2 separate regions of the Homo sapiens genome follow, and region 2 is linked to region 1. Evidence: fine-mapped expression QTL. A gene starts in region 1. The other region holds a variant in brackets. All regions are shown on one strand. Distances are between the middles of the regions.

The links. PIP is the estimated chance that this variant, and not a neighbour inherited with it, causes the effect.
Region 2: its variant is the best candidate, but not a certain one, in a credible set for the expression of ENTREP2 in spleen (GTEx, PIP 0.70).

What each region holds. Positions count from the first base shown.
Region 1 is chr15:29,569,198-29,573,197 of GRCh38, reverse strand. ENTREP2 (endosomal transmembrane epsin interactor 2) reads left to right here and starts at 2,219. Exons shown (of 11, transcript NM_015307.2): 1 at 2,219-2,693. The coding sequence starts at 2,475.
Region 2 is chr15:29,441,378-29,445,891 of GRCh38, reverse strand. The region is part of intron 1 of ENTREP2 (endosomal transmembrane epsin interactor 2); the gene reads left to right. Among named protein-coding and RNA genes, the nearest start is that of ENTREP2, 130 kb to the left of the region's middle. The variant A/G (reference allele first, on the strand shown) is at 2,692.

The DNA of each region.
Region 1 (4,000 bases):
TGCTGTATTGCTTGGAGCTCTCTTTCCGTACCTTTCTTAAATAAATAAATAAAACAAATCAATTCACATATATTTTGGAAGCATCTCTCATTCATAAATGGGAGATCACTGGAGGTCACCAACTGGCTCCCCCTTCTGTTTAATTCATCACTGACACCTCCGAAACATCTCCCAAACACACCCAATTCTCGACATCTCCACTAACCCCACTTTAATCCAAAACACTATCACCTCTTGCCAGCTGACAGTAACAGCCTCTGAACACTCTTTCACTTGGGCACCCCTCAACCCATTTTTGGTATTGTGGTCAGAAAACTCTTTTCAAATCTCCTTATCATCTGATTCCTTTTTTTTGGTGGGGGTGGGGTTGGGGGGGCACTGTGTAGTCTCCATAACACTGAACCCAGTGTGCCGCCAGTCTTCCCACTAGACCGAAAGTTCTCTGAGTACAGGGGGCTTGCAACTCATTCTTCGATCTTCAGTGCCTGGCACATAGTGGGTGTATACTATTTTTTGAATAGTATACAATGTCAATAAACTGTAATTCACTAATTTGTTAGGCTATTGTGTGTTTCTCTCTGAATCCCTTAAAGGCAGGGATTTTTGTCTGTTTTGTTCACTGATGTACCCTAAGAACGTAAAAAAAAAAAAAGCCTTATGATTAGAGAGCTCTTTATGAACTTTTGTTGGAGGAATGAATGAACGGATGAATGAATGAATGAATGAATGGGGGAGATGATCAAATGCGAACATAACTTCCTGCCAGTCCAGGGTCATGCCTTGTATTGTTTCAAGCTCTTAAAAAGTGCTGCACTGCGAACTTCTAGGCAGAAAATGTCTCCAGGAAATTGGAATTTGTACTGGAGTGCTTTAAACAATGCCGGCCAGAGGCTTAGTCCTGTTAAAGATAAGAACTGGGGGAGAAGGCAGCGTTTGGCCACGGGCCAGCATTTTGAGATCAGTCACTCTATCTGTGGAATTCCCTACCCCCTGTTCATCCCTTGGCCATCTCGTTAAATTGGAAAATAAATCCCATCCCTGCTAAAGTGTTGGCTGATAAAGGCTTGAGCTATAGCCCCTTCAAGGGGAATTTGCATTTTAATAGAGGATCGTCAAGCCCCAAAGGAATCAATATCTCTAACGGTGAAATTTCAAGCACCAGCAACCGAGATATTTTGGGACTACACTCTCTAGCGTTTCTCATCCAACAGTAAGGTCTGCTAGAAAGACACGGAAGAATGGTCTCAGGAAATGACCGGCCGTTTCCCTTTATTACTCTGAACTTTGCCTTTTCACGTCTGGTCCCTTCAGACTCCCTAACGCTGGTGATCTCTTAATCTGTCAATGCAGCCCTTTTCAACACAAGCAGAGTCTTAAAGTTGGCTCATCAACAGGGCCACAAAGGAATTATGGCAATCAAAACTTGCAGGATTTCCCGGTATTCCAAGGGAGCCAGTACTTAGATATTTTAAACTCTATGTTGGCAAGAGGGAGTGGAGATGGTTTAATCGGTTATTAATGATATTGCGCATTTAAATTCGTTTTGTGCAATTTTTTTTTAAAGCCCAAACTTTTAACTTGTATCAAAAGCATGCAAACCAAAGGTGGGTAAGGGACATCGTGTGTGTCCTGGCAATGTTCTCGGAATGTCCTCCAGAGCTGAGTTCTCTCAGCGGATGGCTTGGGAGATTCTCGAACTGCAGAAAAGCAGCATCTTGGATCTTGGATTTTTGCATTCAAGAGGCTCCTGTTCGCCACACCTGCGGCCCAGCGCTCGGAATTTCCCTCCTGTCTGCTCCCAGCCCGTCTCCCCGTCCTCAGCGCCCCGCGCGCCCATCCCGAGCCGTCCCCAGGCTCTGAAGGCTCGGCTGGCCCGCTGCCGCTATCGGGCCCCTCCGCGCAGCCGACCCAGGGCTCCGCCGCGGAGGCTGATGCCGTTGCCCTTGATGCGCTGCCGCCCCCGCTCTCCTTCCGCAGACCTGCAGCCGCCAGGGCGCGAGGCGTGAGCGCGGAGGCTGGGACGCCAGGACCGCACCTGCGCCTTCCCCGCCCCTCTCCCGGCTCCCGGGTCCCGGCTCCCGCTCCCGCCCCAGCTGGGGCCCAGCGCACGGCGGCGGGGCTCGCGCCCGGGGACGGCAGCGGCTCGCGCCCGGTACGGCAGCAGCGGCGGCGGCTCGCGCCCGCGCTCGGGCCGGGGAGCGCGCGGGGCGGGCGGGGGAGGGCGCAGCGCGGCGCGGCCGGCGGGCGGGCGGCGCGGCGGCGGCGGCATGGGCGCGGGCACCGGCGGGGGCTGCGGGCGCCCGGCTCCCCGCCCGGCCCGGCCCGCTCCCGGCGCGCGGCCGCCGCAGCCCTGGCAGCCGGCTGGGAGGCCGTCCCTGCACCCGGCGCAACTTGCCTCGGACCCTCTGTGAGGAGAGGCGGCGGCGCGCGCCGGGCCGGGCGGGAGCGGGCGAGGCGTGCGGGCGCCCGGCGCGATGCCTCCGGCCGGCGGCCCCCGAGCGCCGCGTCCCGCCGCGCTGCCCCGCAGCCTGTCCCGCCTGCGCGAGTGCCCGGGCCGCTCCCGCATCGTGCTGGCGCTCGGGGCCACGCAGATGGCGCTCGGATGCCTCATCGTGGCAGTCAGCTTCGCCGCGCTGGCGCTCACCACCTCGGCCCGCGTCCGCCACTCCTGCCCCTTCTGGGCAGGCTTCTCGGTGAGTGTCCGCGACCAGGCGGGGACGGGCTCCGGGGACTGCGCGGGCCGGGGGGGCTAGGCGCTGCGGCCGCCGGGACGCCACCGCGGGCGGCAAGTTCCGGCGGCCAACGCCGGGGCCGAGTAGCTGCAGCGCGGGGCGCAGTTCGAAACTCCGAGCAGAATAACTCCAGGGCCCGGCTCGCCGCTCTCGGAGCATCGCGTTCCCGCTCCTATTGCGCTGATTCCCGGAGTTACTTTTCTTGGAGGAAACAGCAGCCAGGCGCCCGCCGTCCTCCGAGCCCGCAGCGGCCGGAGGGAGCGCCGGGGACCGCGCGCGCCGGGGACACGACCTCGCCATCCGAGCGGCCGCGGCCGAGGCGAGGAGGTGGGAGCCGAACCCGGAGCGGAGCAGCATGTGGGCGCGCCTCTCACCCTCGCGGCGGCCCTGACCGGGGGCGGTGGGGGTGGGGGGTGGGGTGGGGGGGCGGGGGAGGGGCGCCTCCCGTCGGGTTTTGGGTCAGCCCGGATATCGGGGATCGGCCGGGCGGCCCCTGTGGTCGCTCGCTGACTTGGCTTCGGGGACTTCTGGTTTCCCGCGTCCGCCCAGAACGGCGTGGTTTGTGGGCGACGGGACTGGGCAGGCGACCCGCATCCGGCGTCCTGGGGCAGGGGGCAGGCAAGGGGGGGCGGCGTGCTTTCTGAGCTCCAGACCTTAAGGATGACCGATTTTCAGACTCTTAACCACCAAATCAGAGAAGCCAGTGGTGAACAAATCTCCATAGAAGAAAGACGTCTCGATTAAAGTGACTGTCCCCAAGAGTTAATTTTTGGCGTTTTGTAGCATTTTGATGAAAGTCGGTTTTTTTCCTATATTAACAAAGAATGGACGTTATGGGAATGGGAGAGATATATATGCAGAGCAGATATTTATGAAGAGAGGCACTTGTTCTGAGAACTCTTGACATCTGTAACTGCATTTGGTGGATCGTGCTGAAATACATCGCATAGGCTTGTAAACTCAGTATGTTTTACTTCCATCTACAGAAATCCAAACCAATCCTTTAAAACTAATGTTTGCTATTTGTTCTTGAGTTTTAAAATTTGAAAAATTCGTCCAGCTTTGCTTATTTGTTTATTTCATAATGGTCTTTGTTTTTTAAGTTCATTGCATGGCTTTTACCATAAGATCTGAGCAAAATTGCCTCTGGAACACCTCGATCGATACAGGTGTGGTTGTTCATCCTAATGGGAGTATTAATTTTCGAAGCGTATTTTAGATCAAGGGTGAGCCTTGGAGAGCTGAATAGGAACAACAGACTGTGTGGT
Region 2 (4,514 bases), 130 kb after region 1:
CACTGTCTGCCTGGAATTCGCATCAGATCCCACAGGTTGAGGGCTCAGATGCTTCCACTCTAGATGGCAGTTGCAAATCCCAGGTTGTGATCTGTACCTCTGACTGATGGTCTATAAATTGGGGTTCTCACAACTCCCTTCTCCAGGAGTGGGATGGCTGGCATGGCTCAAGAACTCAGGGAAACATTCTTGCTTACATTTACCCAATTATTATAAAGGATATTACAAAGGATACAGATGAACAGCCAGATGGAGGAGATGCACAGGGTAACCTCTTATTTGTGGAAAGGGGTGTGGAGCTTTCTCTGGGCGCCACCCTCCAGGAACCTCCATGTGCTCAGCAACTGGAAGCTCTCCAAATCCAGTTATTTTAGGTTTTTATGGAGGCATCATTGCATAGCTTGATTGATTACATCATTGGTTGTTGGGTGATTAACTCAACCTTTGGCCCCTCTTCCCTTCCCTAAGGTGAGGGGTGGTGGTGGGATTGTGGGCCTGAAAGTTCCAACGCTCTAATCACAGGGTTGGTTCACTTGGCAATCAGCCCCCATCCTGAGGCTGTCCAGAAGCCCCTCACTACCACTCATCTTATTAGCACACAAAAAGACACATCACCTTGGAGATTCCAAGTGTTAGGAGCTGCATGCCAGGAAACAAGAAGAGCAGATATATATTTCTTCTTGTAAATCCCAGTATCTCGCACTAATTCCATTCATGAGGGCTCCACCGTCATCACCAAATCACCTCCAAAAGCTCCACCTCCTAATACAATCACATTGGGTGTTAGGATTTCAACATAGGAATTTTGGGGGGACCCAAACATTTAGACCATAGCAGTTGGGCACATTGCCACCCCAACACATCTGCTATTCTATGAGGAAGCAAGGTGTCAGTATTGGGCTGGCAGCCCTGTTTCTTTTAGTCTTTGTCCACAGTCTGATACATCCATCCTTAAACCTTATTGGTACCTGCACTTCCTCCCTTTTCTAGAGCCAGGGTCTCAGCCTGAGTGGCCGTGGACCGCCTGCCAGTGCCCCCCTCCAGGGACTGTGGAGCCTCTCTAGCCATCTTCATCTCAGGGCTTGTCCAGTAGACCACGCATTTGTGAAAGGAAAATGAAATCTGCCGGCCAGGTGTGATGGCTCACACCTGTAATCCCAGCACTTTGGGAGGCCGAGGTGGGCGGATCACAAGGTCAGGAGTTCGAGACCAGCCTGGCCAATATGGTGAAACCCCGTCTCTACTAAAAATACAAAAATTAGCCAGGCATGGTGGTGGGCGCCTGTAGTGCCAGGTATTCGGGAGGCTGAGGCAGGAGAATCGCTTGAACCTGGGAGTCGGAGTTTGCAGTGAGCTGAGATCAAGCCACTGCACTCCAGCTTGGGTGACAGAAAAGAAAAAAAAAAAGAAAAAAAAGAAAAAAAGAAAAAAAAGAAGGAAGCTGTGGACCCCAGACTCACTATGCCAAAGGGAAAGTTAAGCTTGAGAACTGAGTCATGCAAAAAACCACTTTCCTTTTTATCCCGCACCCCGCAACGGATAGCCGTGATTTCACATGCTTGCTTATATAAAATGTAGATTTGCTGAGCCTGAGAAGAATGCATACTTGGCTTTTCCCCTATCCCCTTCTTTTCTCTTTCTCTTTCTTTCTTTCTTTCTTTCTTTCTTTCTTTCTTTCTTTCTTTCTTTCTTTCTTTCTTTCTTTCTTTCTTTCTTTCTTTGTCTGTCTTTCTTTCTGTCTGTCTTTCTTTCTGTCTGTCTTTCTTTCTGTCTGTCTTTCTTTCTTTTTGAGACGGAGTCTTGCTCTGTCGCCCAGGCGGAGTGCAGTGGCGCGATCTCGGCTCACTGCAAGCTCCACCTCCCAGGTTCACGCCATTCTCCTGCCTCAGCCTCCTGAGTAGCTGGGACTACAGGCGCCCACCATCACGCCTGGCTAATGTTTTCTATTTTTAGTAGAGATGGGGTTTCACCATGTTAGCCAGGATGGTCTCGATCTCCTGACCTTGTGATCCACCCGCCTCCCCCTCCCAAAGTGCTGGGATTACAGGTGTGAGCCACCGCGCCCGGCCCCTTCTTTTTATATGTAAGATGCAGATTCACTGAATGCCAATCAAAGCCTCCGAGGATGTAACCACTTGCCTCATGGGCACCCCTCTCTCCTTTTCCCCTCCTGCTTGCTCTTTCTCAGACCCCTCTTTGGAGAAAAGCCCAGGCCGCAGACCCTACTGTAACTTGTGTTTCTTTTGCTTGGGTACATCCCAACCTTGGCAAAATAAACCTCTAAAGGATTGAGCTCTGCCTCGGACACTTCTTGGGGCACACCCTCATGCTCACTTATCCAGCCCCCAGTGGGCGAGAAACACCCACCAGACCCGTGGGCCCCATGGGATGTTCAGTGTCATGGTTTCCTGGTGGGCTAGTGTATAATTACTTAATCCTGCTCCTTGGCTATTTCCTAATGTACTCATCCCCAAGGTAGGGCCTCTTCCCTGGATTTCTGGTGTTTTGGAACGCCGGGCATCTTTGGATGTCAGCACAGGGAGAGGTTCCTGGGCTTTGGAGGGTCTGGTAGGAACCTTGTCTTCCCACTGCATAAGGTGGGTGGGGAATGTTGGAAGGATTCCAATGACAGTGGTGCTGTAGGGCCCCTCCTTTTGGCTTTTACATGTGGGACAAGGAGGCTGGTGAGCA[A/G]CTTCCACTGAAGAGTGACCACAGGAGTGGTGACAAATGTAGAGGCCAAGGGCCAGAACCTTTAGAAACCTGTTGCTCTGTTCCAGCAAGAGGTACCTGAGGACCTCACAGGTGCCGATCATAAATCTGCACTGTATCTCAGCATGAAAACATGCGGCTTCCCTCCTTCGCAGAGACGCTGTCTTTGGTTTGAAAGGGCTGGGACAGAGAGAGGATTGGTCCCTGCCCCTGGTTTCTGTCCAGTGAGGACTGAGGCTGTGCCCTGACAGTGCTGTTTTGGGAGCAGGCACCTCTGGGGGCTCTAAGGGAGGCTTTGTTATGTGAACAGATCAAGTGTGTGGTTTTAATTGGGGAGGGTAAAGTATGGATAGTGAGCAGTGCCAGCATTGCTGACAAGTGCAAACAGCCTTTTCATCTTCTGTTTTTCCCATTTTAAGAGGCCCCGAGAGCCCCATCGCTGAGGCTGACTTTCCAGGTCGGGGGGCACGGGGACCCTCCATATTATTGATGTGCCCTCCAATCAGGCCACTGGAGCCTCTTTGGCCAGGTGGGCTCTCGAGGGAATGAGAGGAAGTGACAGCATGCCCTGATTTGGGGCTGTGTGTGCCCTGATGGGGGCTTCCCTGGAACATGTGTTTTCCTGATGATTGGGACAAGTTGCAGAACAGAACTGGTTCTCGGCAGAGTACTCTGCCCACAGAGTTCCCCCTCTTTGATATGAAAAATAAAACGTGATTTCTCCAAGAATAAAAATTAGAATCAGGGTTGTGTTCCCTTTTTACACTCCTTAGAGCCTCTGATCATTTCCAGCCAAGGAGCATGCGGCTGTGTTTCCCAAAGATAGTTGCACACGGTCTTCCCAAGTCAGAGTAGCTTGCTGGAGGCACAACCCAGTCTTTACCCAGATGGCGATGGGGTGGTTCGAATAGTTGGTTTGGAAAATGATCTCCACTCTGACCCCATACCAGTTTTTATAACGCTTATCTGATTTTGAACATACTCTGTTCCTGGTGCTTCCTACCCATCTATTAACAAGGGGTCCGTGCTGGGAGGGTCACTGTGTGCAAACGCTTCCATTAGGAATCCCAGTGAGGAGGCTTTTCCTTTCCCTTGGTGCTTCAGGGGGACAACAGCAACAGAGGTTATAAAACAAGGAGCATAGATGCTGGAGAGGAATTGGGAGGGAGGGATGGAGAGAGAACTGGGTTGGTATTGGCTGTCCTGACTTTGAGAGGCTCATGGGAAATGTTGGGTGGACACATGGGTGTGGTGTCTGGAGCTCAGCAGATGGGCCTGGACTGGAAAGGAAGACTCAGAGCCATCACCACAGAGATGGCGGTGAGCTATGAAAGTGCGTGAGCTCACCTGGGCAGATGAGGAGGGACAGAACCCCAAGGACTCCACCATATGACAATGCCAGCAAAGAAACCAAGAAAAAACTGGTGATGGTGTAGATGGAGTCAGGAAGCAATACAGGGCAATTTGGGGGGATTATATGGGATGATGCATGTAAATACTTGTGTAATTTCTGATAATGGTAGTAGATGTTCAGTAAGTGGAATTAAAAAAATATCGTCTATATGCATATATGTACATAAATGCACACCCAGTATAATTCATAACGTATATTCTCACACACACACACGTGCGCATAACTGTCCCTCAACAATTGCAGAACGAGAGCTGGGGAGCAGCGGGCTTAATGCTGTAGAAGTTGGTTAGCAGTGTCAAATGCCATGGAGTTCTGAGAATGGGTGATGGGATTGGGCATTTGGGGGATTATTAGTCACCTTCGTATGACTACCACCATCCATCCACAGAAC